Linked DNA regions of Homo sapiens: region 1 is linked to region 2. Evidence: fine-mapped expression QTL. A gene starts in region 2. The other region holds a variant in brackets. All regions are shown on one strand. Distances are between the middles of the regions. Region 1 holds the start of LOC105370790 (a long non-coding RNA gene). Region 2 holds the start of NUSAP1 (nucleolar and spindle associated protein 1).

The links. PIP is the estimated chance that this variant, and not a neighbour inherited with it, causes the effect.
Region 1: its variant is fine-mapped to the expression of NUSAP1 in whole blood (TOPMed, PIP above 0.99).

Annotation. Positions count from the first base shown.
Region 1 is chr15:41,480,862-41,491,295 of GRCh38, reverse strand. RTF1 (RTF1 homolog, Paf1/RNA polymerase II complex component) reads right to left here. Exons shown (of 18, transcript NM_015138.5): 18 at 7,733-10,434. LOC105370790 (a long non-coding RNA gene) reads left to right here and starts at 4,927. Exons shown (of 3, transcript XR_932169.3): 1 at 4,927-5,066; 2 at 6,617-6,801. RefSeq lists enhancers at 611-905, 874-993, 7,573-7,622. The variant G/A (reference allele first, on the strand shown) is at 5,596.
Region 2 is chr15:41,327,633-41,338,066 of GRCh38, reverse strand. It overlaps NUSAP1 (nucleolar and spindle associated protein 1), which reads right to left and starts at 5,186. Exons shown (of 11, transcript NM_016359.5): 1 at 5,017-5,186. The coding sequence starts at 5,109. OIP5 (Opa interacting protein 5) reads left to right here and starts at 5,476. Exons shown (of 5, transcript NM_007280.2): 1 at 5,476-5,827; 2 at 6,086-6,152. The coding sequence starts at 5,506. RefSeq lists enhancers at 85-706, 707-1,328, 5,463-5,722.

The DNA.
Region 1 (10,434 bases), 150 kb before region 2:
GGCAGTGTATCCTGGCTAGGTCCCCTGACTTCCTGCGTGCTTGTCGCCCAGGCTCGAGTGCAATGGCGTGATCTCGGCTCACTGCAACCTCTGCTTCCTGGCTTCAAGAGCCTCAGCCTGCTTCTCTAGCCTCAGCCTCCTGAGTAGCTGAGATTACAGGTGCTCGCCACCAGGCCTGGCTAGTTTTTGTATTTTTAGTAGAGACGGGGTTTCACCATGTTGGCCAGGCTGGTCTCAAACTCCTGACCTCAGGTGATCCGCCCACCCAGGCCTCCCAAAGCGCTGGGATTATGGCCATGAGCCACCTCGCTCATGTTCTCAAATTCTTTCATTAACATCTTGTATTTCCTGGCCGGGTGCAATGGCTCACACCTGTAATCCCAGCACTTTGGGAGGCTGAGGTGGGTGGATCACCTGAGGACAGGAGTTCGAGACCAGCCTGGCCAACGTGGTGAAATCCCGTCTCTACTAAAATACAAAGATTAGCTGGGCATGGTGGAGGGCACCTGTAATGCCAGATACTTGGGTAGCCGAGGCAGGAGAATCACTTGAACCCAGGAGGCAGAGGTTGCAGTGAGCCTAGGCGACAGTGCCAGACTCCATCTCAAAACAAAGAAACATCTTGTAGTTCCTTCTGAAGGTAGAGTCTGCCCCCACCTACTACAGTCAGAAAACATAAGGGTACGTCTTGGGGCAAGGCCTGGGAGTCCCTGTATAGCTGTAGGATGAGGTCAGCAGGCTCTTCCGTCCTCTTAGTCATGCCAGGAATAAACGTTGAAACCCTAGAACATCTGTTCTTTTATGACTCATTTTTCTCAGTCTTTGATGCTTGAGTAGAAGGGATGTGGAAAAAATCAGACTGACTAGTATGGAGGTGGAAGGGATGGCCTCTTGAGTGCCACAAAAAAAAAAAATGGTGGGGATGTTCAAACACTTAAGCATTAAGCAGGCCAGATAAAATTTTTTTTTTTTTTTTTGAGAGTCTTGCTCTGTCACCCAGGATGAAGTGCAGTGGCACCACCTCAGCTCACTGCAACCTCCACCTGCTGGCACAAGCGATTTTCCTGCCTCAGCCTCCCATGTAGCTGGGATTACAGGTGTGTGCCACCACGCCTGGCTAATTTTTTGTATTTTTAGTAGAGACAGGGCTTCACTACATTAATGGGCCAGGCTGGTCTCGAACTCCTGACCTCAGGTGATCTGCCTGCCTCAGCCTCCCAAGGTGCTCGGATTACAGGTGTGAGCCACTGCGCCTGACCGCCAGAGACAGTTTTTAAAAAATTAAACAACAGAAAAGGGGGACACTGGGGTGTAGAGGAATGTGTCAAGGTTGTTTTTTGTTTGTTTTTGGGTTTTTTTTTTTTTTTTTAGACAAAGTCTCACTCACTCTGTCACCCAGGCTAGAGTGTGCCATCATGGCTCACTGCAGCCTCCACCTCCTGGGCTCAAGGGATCCTCCTGCCCCAGCCTCCTGAGTAGGTGGGACCACAGGCACACACTACCATGCTCAACTAATTTTAAAAACTTTTTGTAGAGATGGAGTCTCCCTATGTTGGCCAAGTCTTGAACTCTAGCCTCAAACAGTCTTCTTCCTTCAGCTTCCCAAAATGCTGGGATTACAGGCATGAGCCATTGCACCCCGCCAGTGTGTCAAGGTTTTGATGGTCATTAGGTGGCTGTTCTGAGATAGGCCATGAGAGTCTCTCTGCCTTGGCCACAAGGCCAGCTTACATGTCTGAGCAGATAACCTTTTTTCTTTTCCTTTATTTATTTATTTATTTTTGAGACAGGGTCTCACTCGGTCACCCAGGCTGGAGTGCAGAGTCACAATCACAGCTCACTTCGGTCTCAACTTCCTGGGCCTAAGTGATCCTCCTGCCTTAGCCTCTCGAGTAGCCGGGACCACAGGCAGAGGCATGTGTCACCATGCCCAGCCAATTTTTAAATTTTTTGTAGAGACAGGGATCTCACTCTGTTGTCCCGGCTGGTCTTGAATTCCTGGGCTCAAGCAATCCTCCTGCTTTGGCCTACCAAAGTGCTAGAATTATAGGTGTGAGCCACTGTGCCCAGCCAGAACCTATCTTCTTGTGGTATCTCAGTTGGTTGATCCTCCTGTTCCCTACAGGTCTGCTTTTTTTTTTTTGAGGCAGAGTCTCGCTCTGTTGCCAAGGCTGTAGTGCATTGGTGTGATCTCAGCTCACTGCAACCTCTGCTTCCTGGGTTCAGGAAATTTCCTGTGTCAGCTTTTGAGTAGCTGGGATTACAGGCACCTGCCACCATGCCCAGCTGATTTTTATATTTTTAATAGAGATGAGATTTCTCCATGTTGTCCAGGCTGGTCTTGAACTCCTGACCTCAGGTGATCTGCCCACCTTGGCCTCCCTAAATGCTGGGATTATAGGCATGAGCCACTGCGCCTGGCCTGAGGTCTGCTTCTTGAAGTGCCTGAGTCTTCACCCCCATCAAAGACCTTCAGGGGTGGGCCCAGTGACTGGTACCTGTAATCCTAGCACTTTGGGTGGCCCAGGCAAGAGGATCACTTGAACCTAGGAATTTGAGGCCAGCCTGAGCAACATGCTGAAAACCCATCTCTACAAAAAATAAGAAAATTAGCCAAGCATGGTGACACATGCCTGTGGTCCAAGGTATTCAGGAGGAAGAGGTGGGAGGATCACCTGAGCCCAGGGAGGTTGAGGCTGCAGTCAGCCGTGATGAAGCCATTGCCCTCCAGCCTGGGCAACAGATTGAGAGACCCCGTCTCAAAAAAAAAAAAAAAAAAAAAAAATTTCAGGATTTATCATGACTGAGGGCTGCATCTCTTCTAGAGAAACATCACCCTCAGGTACAAAACTAGGGAAGAAAAAAGGGCCTGGAAAATGGGATGTGTGATGTGAGGGGTTTCTGGGGTCCTCACCCCAGCCTGCCTCATAGCTGTGCCCACCTCTACCCCATCCCCAGGGCAGCACCAGTGGCAGGAGCAAAATCACCACTCATCACCCTCTGCCAGGCACAGTGCTGGTTTCTGCTTCCTAAGATGACAAGCAGGGCCTTTCACCTTGGGGAGAGAAGGGAAGGCACAGCCTTTGACCTGTGCTCCTGAATGGAGCATCTGTTCCTTTGAGGAGACTTCAAGTCTTCTCCAGCAGGAGCAGAGCCTCTCTAGTGTGTGTGTGGTATGTGTCATTGTGGCATGTGTGGTGTGTGTGGGGGGTTATGTTTGTGGTGTATATGGCATGTATGTGTGGCGCACGTGTGGTATGTGTGTGTTGTGTGTTGCATGTGGTGTGTGTGTGGTGTGTGGTATGTGGTGTGGGTGTGGTGTGAGTGTGGCATGTGTGGTGGGTGTGGTGTGTGGTAGGTGTGGGTGTGAGTGTGGTGTGTGTGGTGTGTGAGTGTGTGTAGTGTGTGTGTGGTGGGTGTGGTGTGTGAGTGTGGTGTGTGTAGTGTGTGTGGGGTGTGTGTGTGTGGTAGGAGTGGGGAGGTGAGAGGGGGTTGGGCTGTCATGTTCCACTGGACCCGGTGGTGCAAGGTCTTATTCTAGTAACAACTCCCAGACATGCACTGTGGGACTTGGTGCCCTTCCAAGGGACTTTATGACCCTAAGACCCCACTATTCTGTGACAATACCTGTGATTCACTCATGCATTCACAGAGCAGACACACTTCCATGGAGCAGCTGCTATTGTGCTAGGTGCAAAGGACACAGGAATGCGTGGATCCTGTGATGCCCCCGCCCGTTTCCGGGAGTGATAGTGTATCATTTTCATTGTCTTACCGAGGAAGGAAACCAGAAAGGGCCCAAGAAGAAAACAGGCCCTGGGACGCTCAGTGGCTGCCTTCCCTCCCTTTCCAAGAGGTTGTCAATGTGCGCGCTGGGAATTTTGGTTTCTCAGCTGCTTCCTGCATCCAAAACATTCCTCACCTCTGGTGGGTTCGATGTCCTTCTCCGTCAGGGCCTACCAGAGAGGGTGCTGGAGGGCTGGCCAGAGCCCAGTGGACACGTGAGAATGGGAGAGAGGTGAGGGTCTCCTTTCTCTTGGAAAGAGGCGTGAATGGGTCTTCACCTGACAGGCGAGCCCTCAGCTCCCAGCCCCAGCCTCTTTTCCTGGCCTCTAGGTTTCCCTTCCTTCCCGGCAATCTCTGACCTCATAAATGGATTGACTAGACGTTGTGGGAATATCCAGGGATGGGTGCAAGGTTACCTCAGCAGGGCTCAGGATCTAGCAGTGTTCATTGACCCTCCACAGTCTGAGTCACTCTTGTCTAAAACGAACAAAATGTGTCACCACACCTGTGTGTGCGCAGTAAGAACATATTCTCTCCTTACACTTCAGAAACAAGGTTTCCGATCCCACTCAGGAGCCTGTGTTCCTGTGATCCTCCTTCTTCTCCAGAACTCAGAACCCTCAGAACCTCACCCAGTGCGAGGGGAGGTGAAGGGGACAGGAAGGGTCTGAGGTCAGGGACTCAGCTTGTGGAGGCGACCACTGTAGGAATGCCTGGGACGTCGTCGGGGGTCCCTGCATCGTGTAGTCATGGTGGCGTGTGATGGGGGGAGGCGGGGGTTAGGAGGCGCCTCCTAATTCCATCTGTGAGCTCTGCGCCTGCAGGCGTGACCTCCACACCTCGGGTGTGCCTGGGGACCGAGTCCACAGAGCATGCAGTGGCCCGGGGTCTGGGACCGTAGTGCCCATGCGTCTCCGCGTGGGCCGCGTGCGAGCCGGGGTCCAGCTCAACTCCCAAGGCGCGCGCCCCGGGGGATCCACGGCTGGAGACGCATGCAGGCCCCGGGCCACTGGGACCCTGGCTCTGAGGCTGCGGGCCCGGAGTGGGGAACGAGGGCAGAGCGCCCTGGAACGCAGCGGCCGCGCGCCTCCTCCCTTGCTGCGTGGACTGGGCGCTAACGGCGCAGGAGGCGCACGGGGCCAGGGATGCGGGGACCGTTGGCGCGGACAAGGGTGGCGCCCAGGCCGGTGCGGGGGGTGGTGGAGACACCAAGCGGGGAGCGCCGAAGGGCTCTCCCGGCAAAACTGATGGAGTCAACCTGAGGCTTCCGGGCTTGCCAGGTGAAGGGCTGTGCTGCATCGCACGCGCTTAGCGAAGCAGGGCTATCCATGGCTAAAAGAGAAAAAGAAATCAAAAGTATTCGATTAAAAAAAAAAATAGAGGCCGGGCGTGGTGGCTCACGCCTGTAATCCCAGCACTTTGGGAGGCCGAGGCGGGAGGATCACAAGGTCAGGAGTTCAAGACCAGCCTGGCCAACATGGTAAAACCTCACCTCTACTAAAAATACGAAAATTGGCCAGGAATGGTGGCACATGCCTGTAATCCCAGGTACTTGGGAAGCTGAGGCAGTAGAATTGCATGGACTTGAGAGGTGGAAGTTGCAGTGAGCCGAGATTGCGCCACTGCACTCCAGCCTGGGCAACAGAGCGAGGCTCCACCTCAAAAAAAAAAAAAAAGAAAGAAAGAAAAAGAAAAAAAGAAATGGAGTCTCGCTATGTTGACCAGGTTGGTCTCGAACTCCTGGCCCCAAGCGATCCTCCCTCCTCGGCCTTTTAAAGTGCTGGGATTACAGGCAGGAGCCATGGTGCA[G/A]GGCCCAAAAGTATCTATCTTTTGAAGAAGTATCAAGGTAATCATCATGGGAAGGGTCAGAGCTTTGTTGTGCTTCTTTTACACTTACCTTCTGGTTTGGTACTATTGGTGCTATTTTGAGTATTCACTACTCTTGGGGGTTGTGGGTAGGTCGGGCCTCAGTTGGGGCCAGCTGGAGGGTGGTAAGGTGGCAAGCCTTCAACGCCTTCAGAAGCCTGGTCAGTAAAGGTGGTGTGCGTTGGCCTGTGGGGAATGACAGCAACGAGGGCCTGGCCCAGAGGCAGCACACTTTCTCTGGACGCATCCCTAGGCCAGCCCAGGGTCTCCCAGTGGGAGCCTCCATCTGGAGTCAGGGTTTCTTCCCCCCCTCCCAACCCCAGCCCAAGTGGAGTTTCTGGTCCTGCCCACTGCCCAGTGCTTCCGCCCTCCATCAGCCCACTCCAAGGGCCGTTCCTCTCCTCCAGGGTCCAGCGGCTTCACTCTCATTAACAACAGCATTTATTGGACCCCTACTGGGGACAGGTTGTTTTTTGAAAGGTGGAAAACTTGTGGCTCAAAGGTGTTAAGTAGCTCAGCCCTAGGTAATAGCAAGTGGCAGAGCGGGGATCTGAACCCTTTCCCGAGCCTGGGTGCCTTTTGGCTCTTGGCCCTCCCTTGTATCCTGAGCATGGTCTGGAAGCCCTAGACATGCCTATCTATGCTCCAGTGCCTAAAAGCCGTATCTCCATGTTCCCTGGGGCTGGCCTGTGGAACCTTAGAGAAGGCATGCCTTTTGGCCCTGTCTTAGCACTGCCATTCCCTTCAGCTCCTTAACACCCTCCTTGCCAAGGGAGCTCAGCAGTCTCCGCTTAAGTCAGGGAAATCGTGAAAAAAATTTGAGCTGGGAGTTGATGGCTTCCTAAGGCTGCTGGATCACAGCCACATTATAGTTACTGAAGGAAGATCTCCCTTCTGGAAAAACGTGGCCAGGGAGATGAAGTTGACCAACCCAGCACCCTTCTTCTCTCCACTTGCACCCCAGGTGTTCTTTCTGGATTCTCAGAGATAGGTAGCAAGTGGCTGCCCCACAGCACCCAAATCCTGGAAGATAAGCAAGCTATGTTGTCATCTGCCCAGAACCCCTGCTCTCTAGGTCCCACTGCTCCCACCAGTTAGGTAGTGGGAGTGCTGGGGAGTTGGAGAAAACCTCATTGGACGCACTTGCAGGTAAGCAACCTCTCCACCACCAGAAGCGGTCTTGGACGTGGCTCTTATCACTGTGATTGCCATCCCTTGCCTTCTTAAAGGGTGTGGAAGATCCAGGATCTTCTTGCTTCCTAGCTAAAATGTGTTCAGAAAGGTTGGAGACACAGCCTCAGGCACTGGGGATGGGGAGGCCTATAGACCTCCCCAGCATGAGGGGTGCGTGGATGAAGGAAGATCAGTGTTTCCTCCATAGCCACACTCATGGCCCTTGGGCACCCCCTTCAAACTCATGATAGCCAGAAAAAAGAAGAGCAAAGAAACTGTGCCTAGGCCAATTTAAAGTTGAAAGGAGCTGAGCACAGTGGCTCATGCCTGCAATCCCAGCATTTTGGGAGGCTGAGGCGGGAGGATCACTCGAGGCCAGGAGTTCAAGACCAGCCTGGGCAACATAGCAATATTCCGTCTCAACAGAAAATTTAAAAATTAGCTGGGTGTGATGGTGCATGACTGTAGTCCCAGCTACTTGGAATGGTGAGGTGGGAGGATCACTTGAGCCCGGGAGGTTGAGGCTGCAGTGAGCTGTGATTACACCACCGCACTCCAGCCTAGACAGCAGAGACCCCAGCTAAAAAAAAAAAGGTTGAAAGGCCCAGATTCTCACTAGGGTTAGGCAGTACATCAGGGGTCTACTTAGCTCTGTTAAAACTTATTGGTCTCTTACCAAGACAGGAAGTAAACCAGGACAACTGGAGGTTTCCTTGGGTCTAGGCAACTACCCTACCAGAGAGGCTTCCGGGGAACCAGGCTGCTAAAGAGTTGACGATGGCCACTTTCACTTTTGTGGGCACAGGGCTAAGAGAAGAAGGAAAAGGAGCAAGAGAGGTTCTCTTGGACTTTCAAAACATGGCTTTAGGAGTTGCCACTCAGGATGCAATCCTTAGACTCAATCTGATCCCTTTGTTAAAATGGCATAACATTTATTTACAATATTGGTACAGTTTGAGTGGCAAGTCAGGACTTCACAAAAGCAAAAACATTCTTTTTGAAGGGAGTGGCAGGCAGTAGACTTTCCCTACACCTGCCAGAAGCAAGACAGACAAACAGACCTATAAACATTATGAACTAGGCAGATGGACACTGGCCTTTTTGCTTCTTGGAAGGAACTGAAAAAATGCATAAAAACAACCTTGGGTGCTGCACCCTTCAACACTGAAACCACACTGTGGAGGGAGGAGGGGCCCAATGAGGGAATTCCCCAGCACAAGAAATAGTGTGAACCACCAAGAAATCCTAGTTGGTAGGACAAAGCCAGTGTCTTAATGCCTGACCAAGATCTTGGTTCAGAGGCACTGCCTCAGCTGAGATTGGAGACAAGTCCTTAGTCTTGGTCCCAATCACTACAGAGGCTACTCGGGTGGAAAGATACCCTTCGGTCTTCTTTGGTTGGCTTTTCTCCCTGCTGTGTGCATTGGCATCTCGTGGGGGTTTCAGCGGCTACATGTGGGGAGGTGGTGGCAAAGTGGCTACAGTGTGATGCAGTTTTAATAAAAATTTTATTACACAGCCATAATGTAATCAACACTTCTCCAAATCCAAATGATACTAAATACAGATCTACATGGTGGATCAGAATGACTCCAGCGAATTATCTGGATTCTATAATTTTATGTTTTTTAAAACCAGAAATCAAAAAAAAAAGTCCAAGTTCATCATGATAGGAGAGGTCCCAGCAGCTCCAGGACTCTGCTGAAGTCCAGGCAATGTTAACAGTCTGTGATTCCACATTTACACAATAGTCTATAAAGAGTTTCGGTCAATGGACTATTCAAGTATATATGATTTTAACGAGTCCATCACCACTCCTTTGCCCAAGTGAACTGTGTCACAGCTACCACAAAGCTGTGTTACAGTCATATTTAGCAATTTTACAATCATAATACTCCTTTAAAACCATCCATTGCTGCTTTAAAAATAAAAAAAAAGTAAACTAAGTTAAAGCGACACTGAGGCTCTACTAAACCCAGAAGTTACCAAGTTCATTTTTATGTTTAAATACAACTTACAAGTCCATGATTTCCCATCGTCCCCCTTCCTTGTACGAAAGCAGGGTGAGGAAGTACAAAGCAGAGCTTTTAGATTAGTCTCTCGTGGAGATCGGAGCTCTCAGCTGTTCCTTTAGCTTAGCTCTTGGTATATATAGTCAGCTGTACTTTGTTCTGAAAGATTTGTTAAATGCCACTTTTATTTACACTTGGAGCTTTACACCTGAGAGTGATTATCAAGCAGTCAGTTTATCTCTTTTCAAACATTTCATAAAGACATACACACACCTCTGCTGGCTTCGCCCTAGCTGCACAATATATATGCTGACCATATATATGTATACACACACACAAAACTGCACATGCTTGAAACATTTGCAACCTAAATCTTTTTGAGGCGGAGTCTCACTCTGTCACCCAGACTGGAGTGCAGTGGCACGATCTTGGCTCACCACAACCTCCGCCTCCCAGGTTCAAGGGATTCTCCTGTCTCAGCCCCCCGAGTAGCTGGGATTACAGGCACGCACCACCATGCCCGGCTAAGTTTTGTAGTTTTAGTAGAGATGGGGTTTCACCGTGTTAGTCAGATTGGTCTTGAACTCCTGACCTCAGGTGATCCACCCGCCTAGGCCTCCCAAAGTGCTGGGATTACAGGCGTGAGCTACTGCACCCGGCGTAACCTAAATCTTTTTGTGTTTGCTCTCCACATTCATATTCAGAAATTTCTCTTAAAAACAAAATGTAGTTCTTGCCAAAGCAGCAAAACAGAATCACCAGGAAGAGGCTGGTATACTGGGTGAGAAAAAGAAGTTCTACGTTCAGCCAAGAAGCTGTGGGCTGTACCCATGGGAAGAGCAAGACATTCACTGCCCTCCCTGGTACCTGGCCATGGGCTTCCCTCCCACACCTGCCAGGACACAGCCTGCAGGTCAGGGGGCTAAACTGGGGAGTTTTCTCCAAAGTTGGGAAAGGATGGGAAGAGTAGGTGGGAATGGGGAAGTTACACAGCTACAGCAGTCAGGCCTGTTTAGTAAGAAGAATCACATTTAATGAGTTTCTTTCTTGCAGTTTCAGATGCTCAAGTACAGCTGAAAAAAATCTGAAACAGCTATAGACCCATGACAGACTGATACAAAGAGTACTGCATTTTAAAAAAATGATAAAAAAATCCACACACTTACACACACACACATACACACTCTCGCTCTCAAATTAGACCCCCCCCCCCCACAAATGTACACTTTTTGGAAACTAAACTGGTTTTGAAACCCCTTCTTCCAAAAAGAAGGGCAGAAGAGAAAGATGAAGAGAGGAAAGAGGATCGCAGGTGCCCAATCCCCGCTCCCCCCACAAGGTCACGTGCCGAATGTTCAATGGGTGGGCCAAGGCAGTCTGTAGAGGAGACCGCCTGGTGCTGCTGCTATTGCCCCAGGGGCTCCAGCAAGATTCCCAGCTCCATGGTAATACTGAATGCGTGCAGAGTGGCCAATGAACTGCGCGGTTAAAAAAACAAAAGGCAAACACAAATCTAAAGACATGGATAAAGCCCAAGAGAGCCCAGGCCCACACTGGGTGGGGCCCTGGGGGAGGGGAGGCTGGTGGGAGATGGTGT
Region 2 (10,434 bases):
CAGGAACTCGGGTGGCTGAGGCAGGAGAATCGCTTGAACCTGGGAAGTGGAGGTTGCAGTGAGCCGAGATTGCGCCACTGCACTCTAGCCTGGGTGACAGAGCAAGACTGTGACTCAAAAAAAAAAAAAAAAAAAGAAAAAAGAAAAGAAAAAAAAATGGGGTGGATAAGATCACCGAGGGATAGAGCATAGTTAGAGAAAAGACAACCAGGAAGAGAGCCCTGGGGGCACTCCACATTTAGAGATCTGGCAGATGAAGAACCAACCAAGGAGACTAGAAAGAAGTGCTAGTAAGGCAGGACAGCGTGAAATATCAAAGCCTAGAACAGAAAGTGCCTGGAGCAGAGGGGAATGTTCAATCATGCCAAATGCTACTGATAGGCACAGGTGAGGGGAGAGAGGGAACACAAGCTTTGTAAGATGGCGACCTTAATAAAGCAATTTCAGTAGAAAAGAACAGAGAAATAGGGCAGTAGATGGAATGAGGACATGGGATCAGGAGAGGATTTTGGCTTTTTTATTTTTTTAAAAGATGGGTGATAGTAAAACATGATTGCATGCCTTATGGCAAATAAGCTAGCAGAGTGGAGAAATTAATGAGGAGAGAGGCTCTAATTGTAGGAATGTAGTCCTAGGGGAAGCAAGAGGGCCCAGGATCTTCAGCATAAATGGAAAGGTTGCCCTTAGACAGGCAAAGAAGCAGAGTATGTGGATGTAGATGCAGGGTGGCTAAAAGGTTTGGTGGTGGGGCCAAGCCTAGGGTCTCACGCCTGTAATCCCAGCACTTTGGGAGGCCAAGGCGCGAGGATCGCTGAATCTCAGGAGTTGGAGACCAGACAGGGCAACATAGTCAGACCTCATCTCTACTAAAATTCAAAAAAACACTGGCCAGGCAGGGTGGTCATGCCTGTAGTCCTAGCTACTCAGGGGGCTGCGGTGGGAGGATTGCTTGAGCCCGGGAGGTTGAGGCTGCAGTGAGTCCTGATTGTGCCACTGCACTCCAGAGAACTCCAGGCTGGCTGACAGAGCAAGACCCTGTCTCAAAAAAAAAAAAAAAAAAAAAAAAAGAAAAGGAAAGGAAAAAAAGGGGGGGATTTGGTGGTTGAACGATAAGGCAGTTTTCTGTTGATTGCATCTATTTTCCCATGACCTATGAGGTAAAGTCATCAAGGGAGGGAAGGGAACCAAGTTGAGTCAAGATGATAAAAAGTAATTATCCTCAAAAGTAGGAAAGTTCATGACTAAGAAGAAAATGGGCCAGGTGTGGTGGCACGTGCCTGTAATCCCAGCTACTTAGGAGGCTGAGGTGGGAGGATGTCTTGAACCTGAGAGGTTGAGGCTGCAGTGAGGCCTGATTGTGCCACTGCAGCCTAGGCAACAGAGCGAGACCTTATCTCAAAAAAAAAAAAAAAAAAAAACCAAAAGGAGGAGGATCAAATGCCCATATTAAGGTTTAGCGTTGCATATTTAAAATAAGTTCGCTCAACAAAGTTAGGTGTTTTCTCCAACTAGAGTTAGCTGCAGAGGTATAGGCAAAGATTAAGCACATAGCTGGGTTTAATCAGGCTTGGGTTTTGCCAGGTGAGTATAGGGAGGTGCAAGGAAGTGGAAATAGTGCCAGTGTTTGTAATTTAAGCTCGCAAGAAAGGAAGTGAGGGCATGAGTGACAACAGGACCAGTCGCCCCACTAACATTAATAACTGGCTCCTTCAAATTGCTATACCATTAAGAGAAGTCTCTCAAAAGAGGGAATATTATCTCCTATATATTTATTATTATTATTATTATTATTATTATTTTTAGACGGAGTTTCGCTCTTGTTGCCCAGGCTGGAGTGCAATGGTGTGATCTTGGCTCACTGCAGCGTCTGCCTCCCTGGGTTCAAGCAATTCTCCTCTCCTGCCTCAGCCTCCCGAGTAGCTGGGATTACAGGTGCCCCCTGCCACGCCTGGCTAAATTTTGTATTTTTAGTATAGATGGGGTTTTGCCATGCTGGCCAGTCTGGTCTCAAACTCCTGACCTCAGGTGAGACACCTGCCTTGGCCTCCCAAATGCTGGGATTACAGGTGCAAGCCACCATGCCCGGCCATAAATTTATTTTTAATAATATCATACTAGTAAAATTATCAAGATTTGATTAAAATAAAACATTACAATTTAAATAAATTTTACTAGTACAAATATACTAGTATACATAAAAATATAGTATATTTAGTATATTTATATTTATACTGGTATAATATAGTATATTTAGTATATTTATACCAGTATAATATAGTATATTAGTATATTTATACCGGTATAAATATAGCATATTTAGTATATTATACCGGTATAAATATAGTATATTTAGTATATTTATACTAAACATACATACTATATTTAGTATATTTATATTTAGTATATTTATATATTTAATATATTTATATATAGTATATTTAGTATATAGTATATTAAGTATAGTATTTATATTTATTTATAGTATAATATATTTAGTATATTAAATATATTTAGTATACATATTAGTATATATAGTATATTTAGTATATAGTATATCTATACTAAATATATATACTAATACACACTAAATACTAAATATGTAAATTTAGTATATTTATATAGTATATTTATAGTATATTTATCTAGTACATATAGTATATTAATATAGTATATTTAGTATATATAGTATATTTATATATTTAGTTTATTTTAGTGTATTTAGTATATTTAGTATCCTAGTATATTTATATATACTAGTATATATATTATATATTTATACTAGTAATAATATATATAGTATATACTAGTATAAATTATAAATTTTATTAGCATAATTATACTAGTATATTTATGCTAGTAAAATTTATTTAAATTGTAGTGTTTCATTTTAATCAAATCTTGATAATTTCTCAGAGCAATTTATTAATTTTTTTGCTATGTACTAAAATTTCAAAAGGCAATTGACTTAATGAGCTCTTAGGTTGTACCAAGTTAATAATTTAAAACATCTTATTATGGAAAATTTCAAACCTAAAAAAGTAGAGAGAATAGTGCAATCCCCCCATGTACCTATCTCCAGTTTCAGTAATTATTAACATTCTTCTGTTCTTACTTCATCTAGTTTCCCTCTCTTTTTCCTTGAGTATTTTACAGCAAATTTTACAGGTATCATAACATTTCACCTATAAATACTTGATTCACATATAAATACTTGATATGGGCCAGGCGTGGTGGGTCACGCCTGTAATCCCAGGACTTCGGGAGGCCGTGGCGGGAGGATCGCTTGAGCCCAGGAGTTCAAGACCAGCCTGGGCAAGATGGTGAAACCCTATCTCTACTAAAAATACACACACACACACACAGCCAGGCAGATAAAGGAGAAAGAAGGTGATCTGAGGCTAGAGGGTCAAAATGAGCAATGGGACAAAGATAGATAAAAGTGCCAAGTGTTCAGGGATGCAGCCTTGGATAAAAGATTCTAGCTAGGCAGCAAAAAAGCCTAAGGAATTTAGGCTGAGATATTAAGGCTTTGTTTACGAAGTATAGAGGAGCCACTAACCACTACAGCCCAGAAATATCCCCAAGGAAAACCCTTTGGTCATTCAGCCCCAACAGGCACTTAGGCCCTGATTATTTTGTTTAAACAATTTAGGTCGGGTGGGGTGGCTCACGCCTGTAATCCCAGTACTTTGGGGGCTGAGGCGGGCGGATCAGGAAGTCAGGAGTTCGAGACCAGCCTGACCAACATGGTGAAACCCCATCTCTACTAAAAATACAAAAATTAGCCAGGCGTGGTGACACGCGCCTGTAATCCCAGCTACTCAGGAGGCTGAGGCAGGAGAATCGCTTGAACCCAGGAGGCGGAGGTTGCGGTGAGCCGAGATGGCGCCACTGCACTCCAGCCTGGGCGACAGAGCAAGACTCCGTCTCAAAGAAAAAACAAACAAACAAACAAATAAAAAAAAAATTGTGACGATTGATTTAAGCATTTACTCACTGTCAGTATCACAGCCTGCAGGAGAAACCTCCAGAGTATATAGCAGTATTATGTGGGAAGTCTCAACTATTAACAAAATATATAAAACCGCTATCCTACATTAAATCCCCAAATCTTCTTCTAACATCTTGGGTTTTTTGTTTGTTTTTGTTTTGTTTGAGACTGAGTCTCTCTCTGTCACCGAAGTTGGAGTGCAGTGGTGCGATCTTGGCTCACTGCCACCTCGGCTTCCCAGGTTCAAGCGATTCTTCTGCCTCAGCCTCCCAAGTAGCTGGGATCACAGGCAAAAAGCTTGGATCACAGGCGTGTGCCACCACGCCCGGCTAATTTTTTAAGGGCCAGGCTGGTCTCGAACTCCTGACCTCAGGTGATCCGCCTGCCTCGACCTCCCAAAGTGCTGGGATTACAGGCGTGAGCCACAGCGCCGGGCCAACTCTCCAAACATCTTGTAGCCTCGGAGTCAAAGACCTTACTGGTTTTGATAGAGACCATCAACCCAACAGTCATCAATAAAAATTTACCCAAGGAGGTGCTCCCCTAAAAGTCGATTTTTTTTTTCTGACAGGTCCATCAATAAAGTATCAAGAGATTATCGGCAATATTACAAATCACTGGAGTCTGTTTGGGGTTTTCCAGAAGCTGAGCCAATTATTTACTTAATTGTCTAACGATTAACGACACCCCTTGTGCTTTCTGGGCCTGAGTTTCGTAATCGACGCCCTGAGAGGTATACAGTAATTTCAAAACAAAACAAAACAAAAAACAATAAACCATCCCTCGGAATAGAGCTTATCATGTGAGCACCCAGACAAGCCAGCTTCAAAATGAGGTGAAAACTACAGTTCCTCTTCCGTTTATCAGAGTTCTAACTGGGACTACCGTGAACCACATCTACTGCCCGAGGGGCAGGGAGAGCTGCCTCAGTCCCGGGCTTCCCTCTCGGTCCCTTCGCACCGCATCTCCCCGAGGCCGCTATTCCCGCCGCGCCCGCCCAGGGACCCGCACCGCCAGCGCCGTACCCTCAGGTTGGCCCGGAGACCCAGACTCTTGGCTAAGTTCTGCAGGTCACTGTACTTGAGGGAGTCCAGCTCCTCTAGAGAGGGGATGATCATCGCGATTCGAAATCCCGGCGATACTCGGAAGATGGATCACCAAACTTCGTCAGCGCGGTTCAAATCCCTGGCGCCACTCTTAACTTTGACTAGGCAGAAATTTATAGACAGTTTAAATGAAGAATGCCGCGCTTCCATTGGTTGAAAATGCCTCAAAGGCGGGGTTTCTAACCCTGACCAATAGAAAGGCTGATTTCCCGTCCCAACAGAGGCGCGCTTTTTTCACACTTCACGAATACGCAGGCGCCAAAGGGCCTGTAACGCCTGTTCAGGTAACGAGTGCGCGGACTCGGACTCCAGTGCTTGGATTGCCCATGATGTCCAATGAGGACGCAGGAGCTGTGCTTGGGGCGGGGCCTGGCGTGTATTCGAAAGGAAGGCGCCGGCTGCGGGAAGATGGCGGCTCAGCCGCTGCGGCATCGCTCACGTTGTGCAACGCCGCCCCGGGGGGACTTTTGTGGTGGCACTGAGAGGGCGATTGACCAAGCTTCTTTTACGACCTCCATGGAGTGGGATACGCAGGTGGTGAAGGGGTCCTCGCCGCTCGGCCCCGCAGGGCTGGGGGCTGAGGAGCCAGCCGCCGGCCCGCAGCTGCCGTCTTGGCTGCAGCCTGAGAGGTGCGCTGTGTTCCAGTGCGCACAGTGTCACGCAGTGCTCGCCGACTCGGTGCACCTCGCCTGGGACCTGTCGCGGTCCCTCGGGGCCGTGGTCTTCTCCAGTGAGTGCAGTGAAGCGTTCGGGAAAGGCAGAGGCTAGCCCGAGAGGGTGTTCCCGCTTTCTCCACCGGGTGGCGGAGAACCACCTGGGGAAGAAAACGGGATGAAAAGTTGGAAGCAAATAACTCCTTGGCCTGGGGATGGGGCAGGGAATCGGGGAGTCTCCTGATATTTACGGCCAGGATGAGTCTGTCTAGAGGAGAGATTTTCCATTTCAAGGCCCGCAGAGTATGGGTTCTGACCCGTGTTTGTCTTCCTAGGAGTTACAAATAACGTCGTTTTGGAAGCGCCCTTCCTAGTTGGCATTGAAGGTTCACTCAAAGGCAGGTACGTATTGATAATTACATTGGTCTCTAGTCCCTGACTTTATGAGACTGAGGATCGTGGAACTGACATGTACGAGGAGAAAACAGTTTGGGATGCTGCTTTTACCTGTTTGACTCTTATATGAACTTGATGTATTAATGAAATGAAAAAGTTGTATTTGTGTATTGGTTTTAGGATCTTCCTGAGGGCCACTTCTCCCAGGTGGCTTGTACAAGTGAAGTGAGGCTAAGAAAGATGTATCTAGTAGTGGACAAAAGAAAAAAATAACCTTTTGGTTTACAGTGAGAATAACATACTATAAACTACAATCCTTTTAGATATTAGAACTTTTTGATACAGGGTCTTGCTCTCGCCCAGGCTGGAGTGCACTGGTGCGCTCATAGCTCACTACAGCCCCTACCTTCCTGGCTCAAGCTATCCTCCCAACCTCACCCTCCGGAGTAGCTGGGACTACAGGCACACAGCACCACTCCCGGCTAATTTTTAAATTTTTTGTAGAGGCCTTAGTATGTTGCCCACGCTTGATATTAGAACTTTTAAGTTTGCGATTATGGTTAGTTTGTAATAAGCTATGCCAGGGCTAATTCTTCAGTAACCCCAGAAACTGGAGAAAAACACAACTAGAATGTTATGTACTTGAATACTGCCTGGTAAACTTTGCGACCTGCCTGTACTATGATTTACAAGTGACAATAAAGTAGTCAGTGAATTTGGTATTGCAAGGCTCCTCAATTTTGAGTTTTGGCTTTAACATTGAGACAATTCATTTCATTCTGACCAGTTTGATTCAACGTTACGGTTAAAATATAGGAATTCTTAGTTGCTTTGTCCAGTAACCAGGAAGATTTCTGCAGCTTGGACAAACTTCAAAAACGGAGTTAGACCCACAGCTCCCTTTCTTTTTCCTGAATAAAAGACACTCCCTATCGCTATAGGAGTCCCCTTCCCACCCAAAGGGGACAAAGCAAGAAGGAGCAATTGCCTGCTTGGAATTGGGTGTATTCTGGGGCCAGAGGCAGAAGGTTCCTGAATGTGCTCTTGGAGAGGAGGCTAATGAATCTAGACCCGTGCTGTCCTATACTGTAATCACTAGTCATATGTAGCTATTATATATTATTAAATCTGCATTGAGATATGCTGTGAACACAGAATACACACTGGATTTCAAAGACTTAGTACAGAAAAATTAATCATTTACAAATACTGATTACGGGCCGGGCGTGGTGGCTCACACCTGTAATCACAGCACTTTGGGAGGCCGAGGCGGGCGGATCACAAGGTCAGGAAATCGAGACCATCCTGACTAACACGGTGAAACCGTGTCTCTACTAAAAATACAAAAAATTAGCCAGGCATAGTGGCGGGCGCCTGTAGTCCCAGCTACTCAGGAGACTGAGGCAGGAGAATGGCGTGAACCCGGGAGGCGGAGCTTGCAGTGACCGAGATTGCGCCACTGCATTCCAGCCTGGGCGACAGACTCCGTATCAAAAAAAAAAAAAAAAAAATACTGATTACGGCTGGGAGCGGTGGCTTACGCCTATAATCCCAGCACTTTTGGGAGGCCATGACAGGCAGATCACCAGAGGTCGGGAGTTCGAGACCAGCCTGACCAAAATGGAGAAACCCTGTCTCTACTAAAAATACAAAATTAGCCGGGCATGGTGGCACATGCCTGTAATCCCAGCTAGGCTGTAATCCCAGGAGGCTGAGGAGGGAGAATCGCTTGAACCCGGGAGGTGGAGGTTGTGGTGAGCCGAGTTCACGCCATTGCACTCCAGCCTGGGCAACGAGAGCGAAACTCTGTCTTAAAAAAAAAAATTGATTACATGGTGAAATGACATTTTTGATATATTGGGTTAAATAAAATATTTAAAAACTAATTTCACCTGTTTTTATTTTATTTTTTAAAGCAAAATTAGGCCAGGCGCCGTGGCTGATGCATGTAATCCCAGCACTTTGGGAGGCCAAGGCGGATGGATCACGAGGTCAGGAGTTCAAGACCAGCCTAGCCAAGATAGTGAAACTGTTTCTACTAGAAATACAAAAATTAGCTGGGCGTGGTGGCGGGCGCCTGTAATCCCAGCTACTTGGGAGACTGAGGCAGAGAATTGCTTGAATCTGGTAGGCGGGGGTTGCAGTGAGCCAAGATCATCCCACTGTACTCCAGCCTGGGCAACAGAGCGAGACTCTTCCTCAAAAAAAAAAGCAAAATGAATAGAAAATTTAAAATTACATATGTGACTCACATTATATTCCTATTAGACAATGCTTGTTTAGATGCTTTGTAAAAAACTGGAGGAAGGCCAGGTGCAGTGGCTTACACCTATAATCCCAGCACTTTGGGAGGCCAAGGCAGGCAGATCACAAGGTCGGGAGTTCGGGACCAGCCTGGCCAGTATGGTGAAACCACGTCTCTACTAAAAGTACAAAAATTAGGGGGGCGAGGTGGCAAGCGCCTATAGTCCCAGCTACTTGGGAGGCTGAGGCAGGAGAATGGCTTGAACCTGGGAAGCAGAGGTTGCAGTGAGCCAAGATCGCACCACTACACTCCAGCCTGGACGACAGATCGAGACTCCGTCTGAAAAAAAAAAAAAAAAAAAACTAGAGGGAAAGCCCCATGTGTTTCTGTATTTGTGGAGTAAGATGAGCTATATGGGACTTACGAAGAGGGTTATGAAATGGCACAGCTCAAGACAACTTGATTTTTTTCTAAGTGTAGGTTCATTACCTAGATGGGGTCAGAGAATGAATTAAGAGGATGATTAATGATGCAGCTAAAAGAGCATAAATTTTAGAGACAGCAGACTCGGGTTCTTTTTATTCTTTTTTTTTTTTTTTTTTTTTTTTTTTTGAGATGGAGTCTTGCTCTGACCCAGGCTGGAGCACAGTGGCGGGATCTTGGCTCGCTGCAACCTCCGCCTCCCGGGTTCAAGCTATTCTCCTACCTCAGCCTCCCGAGTAGCTGGGATTCCAGGCGCACGCCACTATGCCTGGCTAATTTTTGTATTTTTATATTTTTAGTAGAGACGGGGTTTCACCATGTTGGCCATGCTGGTCTCGAACTTCTGACCTTGTGATCCACCTGCCTCAGCCTCCCAAAGTGCTGGGATTACAGGTGTGAGCCACCGCACCAGGCCTTAACTTTACTCTTAATGAGGCATGTGAAATAAATTGATCCCTCTCAATCTGTCATATTTGAATACTCCTAAAATATACTCCCTCCGACATTTATTTAAACATTCTACAATTGGCATGAACCTCTTAGATTCAAAGTCATAAAGTAGACAGATACAAGGTTACTTCCGTCTACATTTTATTGTTCTCTTACTGGTAGAGGATTTATTGTAACTAATTTTAAAAAGGATTATTATAGTATGTTGACACTTAGAAATAGCTTTTTTACCCTGAGCTTTTGTTGTGCTCAACAGCATATTTAAATGGAATTTTGTTTGTATTATAAGTGAAGTACATTTTTTTCTAATTGTTATGGCAAATTCAAACCCGAGAGAAGAATATAATGAACCTCTGTCTACCTGTCACTAAACTAGAGCACTTATCAACTCTTGGCCAATCTTGTTTCATCTAAAATCATAGTTGGCTTATCATGCTGGCTCACGCCTGTAATCCCAACACTTTTGGAGGCCAAGGTGGGAGGATCACTTGAACCCAGGAGTTCAAGACCATCATGAGCAACATAGCGAGACTTCATCTCTAAAACAAAACAAAATATCTATCCTCCACAATGTTTTGAAGCAGATACCTGAAATTACATCATTCCATCCATAAATATTTTGGTAAGGATCTTTATAAGAAACTTTTTTCTATTTATTTATTTTTTGAGATGGAGTCTGGCTCTTTTACCCAGGATGGAGAACAACCTCCGCCTCCCAGGCTCAAGCCATCCTTTCACCTCAGCCTCCCAAGTAGCTAGGACTATAAGGCATGCACCACCATGCCCAGCTAATTTGTTGTAGAGATAGGGTTTCAACATGTTGCCCAGGCTGGTTTTGAACTCCTGAACTCAAGTGATCTGCCCACCTTTGCTTCCCAAAGTGCTGGCATTACAAGCATGAGCCACTGCACTCAGCCTTTCTTTTCAATTATTTTATTTTATTTTTTATTTTTTTGAGATGGAGTCTTGCTCTGTAGCCCAGGCTGAAGTGCAGTGGCAGGATCTTGGCTCACTGCAAACTCCGCCTCCCGGGTTCAAGTGATTCCCCTGCCTCAGCCTCCCGAGTAACTGGGACTACAGGTGCATGCCACCACATCTGGCTAATTTTAT